2 separate regions of the Homo sapiens genome follow, and region 2 is linked to region 1. Evidence: fine-mapped expression QTL. A gene starts in region 1. The other region holds a variant in brackets. All regions are shown on one strand. Distances are between the middles of the regions. Region 1 holds the start of OPA1 (OPA1 mitochondrial dynamin like GTPase). Region 2 overlaps OPA1 (OPA1 mitochondrial dynamin like GTPase).

Region 1 (5,387 bases):
CCTCTGGGCGGGGCCACAGGATCACTTGAGTCATGAGTCATAAGTCTCGATGGGGTGAGTCTGAAATATACCGCAAAAAAGCAGTCTTAGATTCTATAGTAATGATGTTATCTATAGGAGCAATTGGGGAAGTCATAAGATTTGTGAGTTCTGGCCACATTGATTCCTGAGCAGTAAGGGACTATAGAAACCATACCTACGTCTTAGCACAGTTCAGGCCCCTCTCATGATCCTGTTCTCTTGGCCTTTCTTACAAAGGTGGTTTTTGGTTCCTGAGCAACGAGGGAGTTAGCTTTAGGAAGGGACTATTATAATCCTTTCTTTCAAGTTAAACTATAAACTACATTCCTCCCCAAAGTTCATTTGGCTTAAGTCCAGGAATGAGCAAGGACAGCTTGGAGGTCAGAAGCAAGATGGAGTCAACTATGTCAGGTTCCTCTTGTCATAATTTTGCCAAGGCAGTTTCAATATAAGTAGTGGTTGTTTTTCCTCTTAATTTTTACTAAGAAAAGTAGAAGCACAAGCTTCATGATAAACAGTAATTGATGTGTTCAATTTCAGAAAGATGAAGGAGTGTGAACTACCGGAGAGGACATGAGTGCCTGAAGGATAAAACTACTACTTGGCTCCTGGTTCCGAGACATTTTTTGTATATAAGAATTGAAGGTTGATGTTGTTAGGCATCCTGATATTTTTATGTGATTTTTTAAAATGTGAAATTTGTTGATTTTTATTTGGCAACAAATGTAGCATTTTTTTGCTTGTTTGTTTTTGAGACGGAGTCTCGATCTGTCGCTCAGGCTGGAGTGCAGTGGCACAATCTCAGCTCACTGCAACCTCTGCCTCCTGGGTTCAAGCAATTTTTCTGCCTCAGCCTCCGAGTAGCTGGCTAATTTTTTTATTTTTAGTAGAGACAGGGTTTCACCATATTGGCCAGGCTGGTCTCAAACTCCTGACCTCGTGATCTGCCTTCCTCGGCCTCCCAAAGTGCTGGGATTACAGGCATAAGCCGCCATGCCCAGCCCAAATGTAGTGTTATTTTTAAAACACTGCATAGGCCAACACTGTCTAAACCAAACAAAACAGGTCTGTGGGCTGAATTTGGTCCAATGGTTGCAGTTTATTATACAACAGTTTGCCCTTTTTTCATGGCAACACTATGTATCTATGGGAGATCATTCCTTATCAGGACATACAGACCTAAAGCATAGGTTTTCATGGCTAGTACGGATGTAATTTATGTGTCTAGTTCCTATACATGGACATTTATACTGATTCCAATCTTTTCCCATTTCATACAGTGCAGAAATAAACATCATCATGCATACATCTTTGCATACATGGGAATGATTCCACAGGATAAATGCCTAGAAGTAGAACTGCAAAACAAGGGCTTCATAAAACATATGATAACCATATATAAATGGTGATGGTGGTTAGTTTCTCCTTTTTTTATGGTTAAAGTCTTTTATCCCTAATTTTTCTTTTTTGTTGTTGTTGTTAAAGTCTCTTGGTTTCTCTTATTTTATTTTCTAAAATAACAAGGAAGTAACGATTACAAAGACACTTTTTGTACAACCCTACAATCCCAGGAAGATCTACAGTTTGCACAGGTTGGTACAGCAAATTGCTCTCTGGACCTGCCATTGAAACAGTCACCACAATAAATAAAGAAAATTCTAAGAGTCCTGCATTTGGGAAGTTTACTATCAATGGCTAGGTCTACTCTTGGTGGTATTGTGAGTGCATGGGTCCAGACTTATGATTCTGACAATTAAGGGAAAAGGAATTGTCTTTATGCTCTGTGTATTTGTGTATGTGTGTGGCATGGGTGGGGGGCGGGTAGTGGGGAGGAGGTGAAAGGTCCCTGAAGTAAAGAGGATGCACAGGACCCTTTTATTTTAGTCCCTAAAAATTGGCTTCATAACCGTTCACAGGCCACATCCCTTTTACGGGCCCTGGTTTCCTTACAAAACATAAAAGGTTTGTGTTGGAAGGGGAAAGGAGTATTTAAAGTGATGGAGGAGAGGAGCTCAAGATGGCTGAGATCTGGGCCTGTCCAACATTGAGAAATTTGGGAGGGGAGCCATCAAAGAAGCCTGGGAGCAGCAGTTCCAGGGAAAAAGGAGAATGTGATGGCCAGAGAGCCAAAAGAAAAAGTAGTTGAAGGAGTGCTCAGCACTAGGCATCTGAACTGAATGCTGTGGCAGGCTCACTGGCCACAAACAATAGGGAGCTGGTGGAGGCCTTGACGAGGACCATTTCAACAAACTGGTGGGCTTAAAATCCGGAAGAAACAGTTGAACAAATCATTTTGACGCCTTTTATAAACCACACAAGCTTATTCCAAACCCGTTACTGGCCTAACTGATTTAAGTCCCTTTCCCATCTGATCCTCAGAGATTCTAAGGGACTTAGCCTATCCATGACTCTTCGTCCTGCTTCTCACCTCCCATGATTGCCCTAACGATGTGAAAGTGCTTTCAAACAAAGATGCCCAAGAAAGAAGGTAGGCAAATGTGCAAGCATTAGTTTGTAGTACGCTATTACTGTATTTCACCTTGCACTCTCTAGTTTCCTTCGTGCTCCCTCAATATCCAACTCTTAATAAATTCATGGCTCCCGGTGAGCATTCATCAATTCTCATTCCACGCCTTTAGCCCTTCCCGTTCCCGCCCAACTCTCGCTCCCTCCCCTGGCCAAATCTCTAACCTGCAAGGCTAATTCCGAATTCCAAATCGGAAGCAAGAGGGCGGGGCCCCGTGAGAGGCGATGGATTGCTCCAGTCCGTTCCCGACGCACTGTGCGCATGCGCTGGTCCTCCGCGGACCGTTCGTGCTGCCCGCCTAGAAAGGGTGAAGTGGTTGTTTCCGTGACGGACTGAGTACGGGTGCCTGTCAGGCTCTTGCGGAAGTCCATGCGCCATTGGGAGGGCCTCGGCCGCGGCTCTGTGCCCTTGCTGCTGAGGGCCACTTCCTGGGTCATTCCTGGACCGGGAGCCGGGCTGGGGCTCACACGGGGGCTCCCGCGTGGCCGTCTCGGCGCCTGCGTGACCTCCCCGCCGGCGGGATGTGGCGACTACGTCGGGCCGCTGTGGCCTGGTAAGTGCAGGCTCTAATCTGGCCCCGTTAATTCTGGGGCCTCTTGAGAGTGGGGCTGTCTTATCTCTATCTCCAAAAATGTGCAGGTGACTCTCAGGCCAGGCCGACGGCAGTTGGAGAATTCCCAGATGTTCTTGAGGACCCAGAATGACAGGAGCCCTGGCTGGGCTTACGTTCGGAGCCGGCTTCAATACTGGCCCTTTTCTCTGGCCCTACCCAACCCGAAAATTCTGGACGCCTCTCAATCTTGGCCCGTCTCTATTGTCCTTTTGTCTCTGCCCTTTACACCCTTGTGTCTTCAGTGTTCTGTCTGTCTCTGGTTGCCTCTTTTGCCTTTTTTCTGTCCTCTCCCTGCCAGGTTTGGCTCTGTCCATGAGTCACCTCTCTCCACATTTCTCCTAACTCTCGGTGTCTTCTTTTTCTTCCATTTCCACGCCATGTGTACATTGCATCTTCAGGTACCTGGGCTCTTCTATCGGGGAAAGGGGCGTCCGTCTCTTTCCCTAGCCCGCTGATAGAAGTCAGAACTAGAGCAATGACGCACACGGTGTCAGAGACGGTGATTCGAGATGCCCTTTCAATAGCAGCTTTTTTCTGTGTTTCGGGAGGGAGACTTACTTTTTGATGCAAGGTCGTGAACGTGGCACCACCTTTCTAATCTCAATCATTGTTGCCCTGGGGTGGTTTAATTCTAAATAGAAAATCATAGAAATCTTTTCATTTCTGTGCGTTACTATATGCATTGTAATGAGATTAAATTGGATTTTATAGGAAATTTTGTTCTAGTATCATTAGATACCTTCAAGCTTAGCTCATTGTTGCAGGCATTTGATAGGAAGTAAGATGCATCAAGCAAAATTGGAAAAACGTGGTTTTCCTGAATTAACTTCTAAGCAGTTGTTTTGAATTTTTTCCAGACCTTTTTAAGTGGTATAGATAATTTATCGTGTTTATAAGGAATGGAATGCATTCGTTAGTTTGTTTTTGTTTTGTTTTGAGACGGAGTCTTGCTCTGTCGTCCAGGCTGGAGTGCAGTAGCGCTATCTCGGCTCACTGCAACCTCCGCCTCCCAGGTTCAAGCAATTCTCCTGTCTCCGCCTCCGGAGTAGCTGGAATTACAGGCACGCGCCAGCACGCCTAGCTAATTTTTGTATTTTTAGTAGAGAGGGGGTTTCACCATTTTGGCCAGGCTGGTCTCGAACTCCTGACCTCATGTGATCCACCCTCCTCGACTTCCCAAAGTGCTGGGATTACAACCGTGAGCCACCGCGCCCGGCCCAATTTGTTTTATATAGGTTAACTGGAGTCCAAAATACAGAACTAGATGAGATAACAATAGTTAACAGTGTTAGTCAGTTAGAATTATTGCATAGGTATTTTTAATCTCATGGAATTTTAGTCTTTGAGTAAGTTCACAGCCCTTGGTATTAAAGTAAGTTATTTACAACCCTTGCATTTCTACTTCTCAATATTTAGTGAGGAAACATATCTGATTTTCTTTAAATAAAAAGAGAAAAGACTGCAGAAGATAGCATTCTCTGTTGGAGCAATTAAGATGTATAAGAAGAACTACAAAGACGGAGTTTTAAAACAAACTGATTTATAAGTGGTATTTATTTAATTGGCTGTCATTGGGCTAAATTATTTCTAAAGTTACCATGGATGCCATTGAGTCATGGCTTAAAAATGTCTCCTGGTGATGGCACAGTTTAGCTACCTAAAGAAGTAGAGATGTGGGAAGCCAGAAGCCCCAAGCTCTGCAGTTTTTCTTTTGCTATAGTTCCTTTGCATGTTGTGAAAGAATACAGTTAAATTCCTGCTCCCTAACAGATGAGAGCATAAGCATTTCTTTGGGCATACATATGTAAATACATGCTCATGGACATGTGAAAAGATCAATACTAACATTTGGGTGCAATAAATAATTGTGTAAAATTATTTTTAAAAGAATTACATATTAGGAAATGATATATTGATTAAAAGTGATAGTCAATGAACAAGAGAGTAGATTTCTGGGGGAAACCTATTTTGCATCATACTTGATTTTTAGTTTTGACTGAATATTGAAGTCTATATTCAAAATTCTTTTCCTTTAGAACTGTAAAGGCATTGCTGCATTTTCTTCTAATGTAATTGTTTATTGCTGCTGAGAATTCTTATGACAATCTGATTTTTTCATCTTCATGATTATCTTGTTTTTCCCTTCATGGAATCTGTTAGGGTCTTGACTTTATCCTTTATCCTAAATTTCTCAAGGCTTGGACCAGGTGTGGGTTTGGTTTTGTT
Region 2 (5,387 bases), 62 kb after region 1:
AGTTTCTGTAGATAAAGAAGGCAATAAAACTATTACCTTTATTATATTTTGCTAATTATATTTTGTGTATTAGTAGAAGTTATCCCTGGTTGATGGCAAAACCTGGAATAGAGAAGTCACCTATAATAACACAGAATATAGTCCAGGCACGGTGGCTCATGCCTGTAATCCCAGCACTTTGGGAGGCCCCTATGGTCGGATCACTTAAGCTCAGGAATTCAAGACCAACCTGGGCAACATGGTGAAAACCCTGTCTCTAATAAATATACAAAAATTAGCCAGGCATGGTGGTGCACGCTTGTAATCCCATCTACTTGGGTGGCTGAAGTGGGAGAATCGCTTGAACCCAGGAAGCGGAGGTTGCTGTGAGCCGAGACTGTGCCACTGCACTTCAGCCTGGGTGACAGAGTGAGACCCTGTCTGAAAACAAACAAACAAAAAAAAAAAACCATAGAATATAGGCTGGGAAAATTGTTAGATGATAGCAGCAAGCAATAAGGTAGCAGATGACATAACTAGATGAAGTGGCTTCACAGTGTAATGGTTTTTATATGAACATTGAGAACTGATGGTTCAGAAGAGAGACTGGGGTGAGGAGGACTTAACTTCTACTTTCTAACTCTGAAGGCCATTTAACTGCTGAATAGCTTCATCTCAGCAGAATTTGAGGACAGAGGACAATCACTTTCCTTAAGGAAAGGTTTGGAGGTAAGAATAGGGAAAGAGAATGAGAGTGTAAAATGGTTTGTCATGGAACCGGGTATTACAGGAGCACAACAGAAATTGTTGGGATGGAGGGGAGCAGTGGGAGTCTGAGACAGAGGACAGCAGCTTGGCGATGAAAGGCAGGAGAGGCTGGGCAAGGAGAAGTGATAACAGCTGCATCTGTGGATGTCAAAGCAGCAACCTCCCTTGAGAAAGTTGCCTTTAGCTTCTCGGGATTTGGTAATCAGGATTTTAAAAAGGGTGTCAGGGATATGGATTCCTGGCCCACAGACTCCAGGGAAAAATAACAGACTATGTCTCTTCTGAAGCAGGATGAGAAAAAAGCCCTGGAGGTCAGAGGCTGGATCCTGGTCTTCAGTTCAACTTTCAGTAATCTTCTTGAGATTGTGTATAAAGTGGTATCTGAAGAGGAGGCCCTGACAGGCTGCTTTTCTTCATCTTGCTCCTTAAATTCTCCCACTCTCTGTCATTAACTCAGTGACTAAATTGTCTTTGTCCTTTTGGGCCCCAGTCATATATCCTCCTCAGACTCTGATTTCTTTACTGGTTGTAACTGGAAAGTGACCTGAAAGTTAGCAGTGGGAAACCAGGATCTGTGTTGATTGATTCAGTAGACTTAATTTTACACAAAATGTTTAGTAAATAGTCTTGGAGGGTAGGAGATGTTGACTCTCCTCACCAGAGAAGTTCAGCTGGGCTTTTGGACAGCAGGATATTTCTGCTACCCTGAGATTTGTGGCTATATCCTAAAGGGTTGAGATTATTCTTAAGAAGGATCCCCTGATAAGCAGAGTTTTTTTTTTATATTGTAGTATTCTAAGTTTATTACCCAAATAAATATTTCCTTGAGATTTCAAATTGAAATAGTTGTATTTTTTTATTAGTGACCCATGTTCTTTTAAGATGTCTTTCAAGGCAGAATTTTCAACATGATTATGCATCTTTTACATTGTTACCTTAATCATGAATTATTGAAAAATTTTATCTACAGCATTCTATAACATCTCTGTGCTGTGATCTGATAAGTTGTCATATTTATACCAAGAAATTTTCAGTCTCAGACTCTCCCGTAAGCACATGAAGTATATGTTAATACTAGGCAGATAAGTGTGCATGAAAAGATGCTCAGAATTATTAGTCATTAGAGAAATACAACGTAAAACCACAATGACCACTATAAACTTACTAAAATGGCTACAATTTTAAATGACAGACTATACCAAGTGTTGGCAAGGATGTAGAGGATCTAGAACTCTCATTCTCTGCTAGTGGAAATGTAAACTGAGGCAAACATTTCAAAAAAAAATTAAACATGTAATTACCATATGATCCAAACATTCCACTCTTAGGTATTTACCTAAGAGGAATGAAAGCATGTGTTCATAAGAAAGACTTGTACGTGAATTCTCATAGCAGCTTTATTTGTAGTAGCCAAAAGCTGGAAACAGCCTAAGGGTCTATCAACACAAGAATGGATAAACACATTCATGCAACATAATACTACACAGAAATAAAAAGAAGTGAAATATTGCTAGATGCGGTGTCTCACACTT[G/A]TAATCCCAACACTTTGGGAGGCCAAGGCAAGAGGATTGCTTGAGCCCAGGAGTTCAAGACCAGCCTCAGCAACATAGTGAGACCCCATCTCTACAAAATTTTAAAAAATTAGCCAGGCATAATGGCGTCCACCTGTAGTCCCACCTACTCGGGAGGATAAGGTGGGAGGATGGCTTGAGCCCAGGAGGTTGAGGCTCCAGTGAGCCATGAATGTGCCACTGTACTCCATCCAGCCTGGGCAACTAAGCAAGACCCTGTCTCAAAAAAAAAAAAAGTGAAATATTAATACATACAACAGCATGATGAACCTCAAAATAATTATGCTGGAGTGGAAGAACAAAGACAAAAAAAGAGTATATGCCACATGATTGCATTTATATAAATTTCTAGAAAATACAAAGTAATCACAGTGACAGAAAGCAGTTCCAGTGGTTACAACTTTTGAGGATGATGGATGCGTTCATTATCTTGACTGGTGCGATTTACAGGTATATACACATGTGAAAACTTATCAAAATTTTAAATATGTACAGTTTATTATAAGTTAATGATACTTCAGTCAAGCTGTTTTTAAAAACAATATTATATTTAGATTTGGTGCTTTTGATACTTTTTTATTTCAGGGAGGAAATCCTTCAACAATCTTTGTGGGAAAGAGTATCAACTCATGTGATTGAAAACATCTACCTTCCAGCTGCGCAGACCATGAATTCAGGAACTTTTAACACCACAGTGGATATCAAGCTTAAACAGTGGACTGATAAACAACTTCCTAATAAAGCAGTAGAGGTTAGGATATAATTTAATTAAATGGGTAAGAAGCATTATCTGAAGGGAGTAGGAGCTGTGAATTTTAGATTTTATTCCCATCACAGCCTCTATCTTTCTTTTAGGTCTTTATATCTCATTTATTCTTTATTCCTCATCTCTGTTTTGGGACTAACCTTAATGTTGCTACCAGTTACTACGGTTATAAAAATTTACTAATTGGTATGATGTTGGCCTGAGGGTATTGGTACTTCTTCCAAAGACAATATTTAACAAGCAAATTTTGCTTGAATATGAAATATTTGCTTGAGTATTTGCTTGAATGTGAAATATTTTGAACATTTTCTGTGGATTCTGTGGATTATAGAGATTCCATAAAGAAAATACTTAATAGATGAAGCATTTCATCTGAGCTCAGTTATACTTAAATTATCATTTTCTTAGGATCCTGACAGAAGATTAAACTAGGAATTATTAAAAAACAAAACAAAACAAAACAAAAAACTACCTTAAAGAATCTATTTCTGCTACCATGTATCTTGGCTTTATCACTTAATAGCTGTGTGATCCTTTGCCTAGTTGCTTAACTTTCCTATGTGTTTTTTCATCTATAAAATGGTGACAATAATGTTGCCTACCTCACAGCATTGTTATAAGGATTAAGTAAGTAATTATATGTAAAATACTTAGACAATGCCCAGCCCATGGTAACTGCTCAGGGAATGGACCTGCTGTTATTATGGTCCTCATCATCTGAATTGATCCATCATGTACATCACCCCATAAACAGCGATTGTTCAAGCTAAGAGTCAGTGTGTCCTGTGCTTGTGTGTGAGGTTGCTCACAAAATTGAAGTCAATGTTAAAAGTAATTTTGTTTTTCATACCTATCTTAAAGGCAGTGTCAGTTTCTAATTATTCGGATGTGATTTCACCCCTTTCCTATCTTGCTCCAGTGTTAACTTCCTTATCTCTGTTCTCAATTTCTTCAAGCCCCTTTCTAAGAACTCCAGCAGCCTCCCTGCCTAAGTTGCACGTTGCTGAGCCCTGGCAGTTCTTGACACATTTACCCCTGAAGAAGTTAGAGAGCTGCTGCTACCCCTTCAGTAGCTCTCATTACTGGCACTAACATTTTTTCTGCGCCCTGTCCCATGATAGGATATTTTCACATCCTAAGGTTCAAGCAGTGGAAGTGGTTATGAAAGCATCAATTTTTCTTTCCACTGCTGCTTTCTGTCCCTCAGCACTAGGTGTCATGGAAAGAATGTAGATCTGGTGAGAAGGTCAGGAAACATGGATCTTAATACTCACCCCACCACTCACTCCGTATTTTTGGACAGTCACTTTCTTTTTTAAAATGAGAGAGGGCTAAAATCCAGCATTAAAAAGCCCACATAGTTATAAGTAGATTTTGTTCTTCATTATTTTTGACACTGTGCTCTTCCTTTCACCGTTCAGATCATTAGGAGTTAGCTATAATACAAAGCTGAATACTCTTCGGCTATGTTTTAAAGTGTTGGTGCATTGCTTCATATCTTTGCTTAAAGACAAAGCTATGAAGATGACTGAATCATTAAGACATTTAAAACCTTTTGCAGTGTGAAAGAAGCAGTCAGACTCATGTCTTAGAGGTTGAAATAAATAAATGAACTAACTTGGGTGGCAGGCTTAGAATACATACCTTATCTTGAAGAGACAGCCCTGTTCAGCTACAGTAGGTGGTGTCATGTAGGAATATGGGTATATCCTTCTCAGTTAGTCCAAGAGAAGCCGTAAATGCAGACTTTTATATGAAATCTCTCAATTTTTAAATATTAGCATGCAATTTTAAAAATGAGAACCGCTATACATGTCTAGGAAAACATACCAGGAAGCCATATCTGTCCCCAGCAACCCGTGTGAGACCTCTACATCATGGTTTATATTTGCCTTTTTGTTAATGTAGTTTCACATATATTTTCTGATAAGCTGATTTATTTATCACATCTGTTTGGCTTGAGCTCGTGTTATTTTTCATGTTAACCATTGAAGTATGTAGTAATAATATGGCTTTTTTTCTTTCAAATAATTATAGGTTGCTTGGGAGACCCTACAAGAAGAATTTTCCCGCTTTATGACAGAACCGAAAGGGAAAGAGCATGATGACATATTTGATAAACTTAAAGAGGCTGTTAAGGAAGAAAGTATTAAACGACACAAGTGGAATGACTTTGCGGAGGACAGCTTGGTATGTTGTTTGTATACTGGGGTATCAGCCTCATATTTTTATATAACTTCTCAAATTGATACTTTTTCATAGGAGACTTTATATGACTAAATTACATTCTGAATTAAAAATAA

The links. PIP is the estimated chance that this variant, and not a neighbour inherited with it, causes the effect.
Region 2: its variant is the best candidate, but not a certain one, in a credible set for the expression of OPA1 in whole blood (INTERVAL, PIP 0.86).

The regions. Positions count from the first base shown.
Region 1 is chr3:193,590,309-193,595,695 of GRCh38, forward strand. It overlaps OPA1 (OPA1 mitochondrial dynamin like GTPase), which reads left to right and starts at 2,900. Exons shown (of 31, transcript NM_130837.3): 1 at 2,900-3,101. The coding sequence starts at 3,070. It also overlaps a transcript of ATP13A4 not described here. RefSeq lists enhancers at 2,562-3,213, 2,609-2,678, 2,729-2,778, 3,214-3,865, 3,379-3,458 and a silencer at 2,999-3,148.
Region 2 is chr3:193,651,959-193,657,345 of GRCh38, forward strand. It overlaps OPA1 (OPA1 mitochondrial dynamin like GTPase), which reads left to right. Exons shown (of 31, transcript NM_130837.3): 22 at 2,904-3,069; 23 at 5,122-5,274. All of the region lies in intron 4 of LOC102724808 (a long non-coding RNA gene), which reads right to left. Among named protein-coding and RNA genes, the nearest start is that of OPA1-AS1, 27 kb to the left of the region's middle. The variant G/A (reference allele first, on the strand shown) is at 2,280.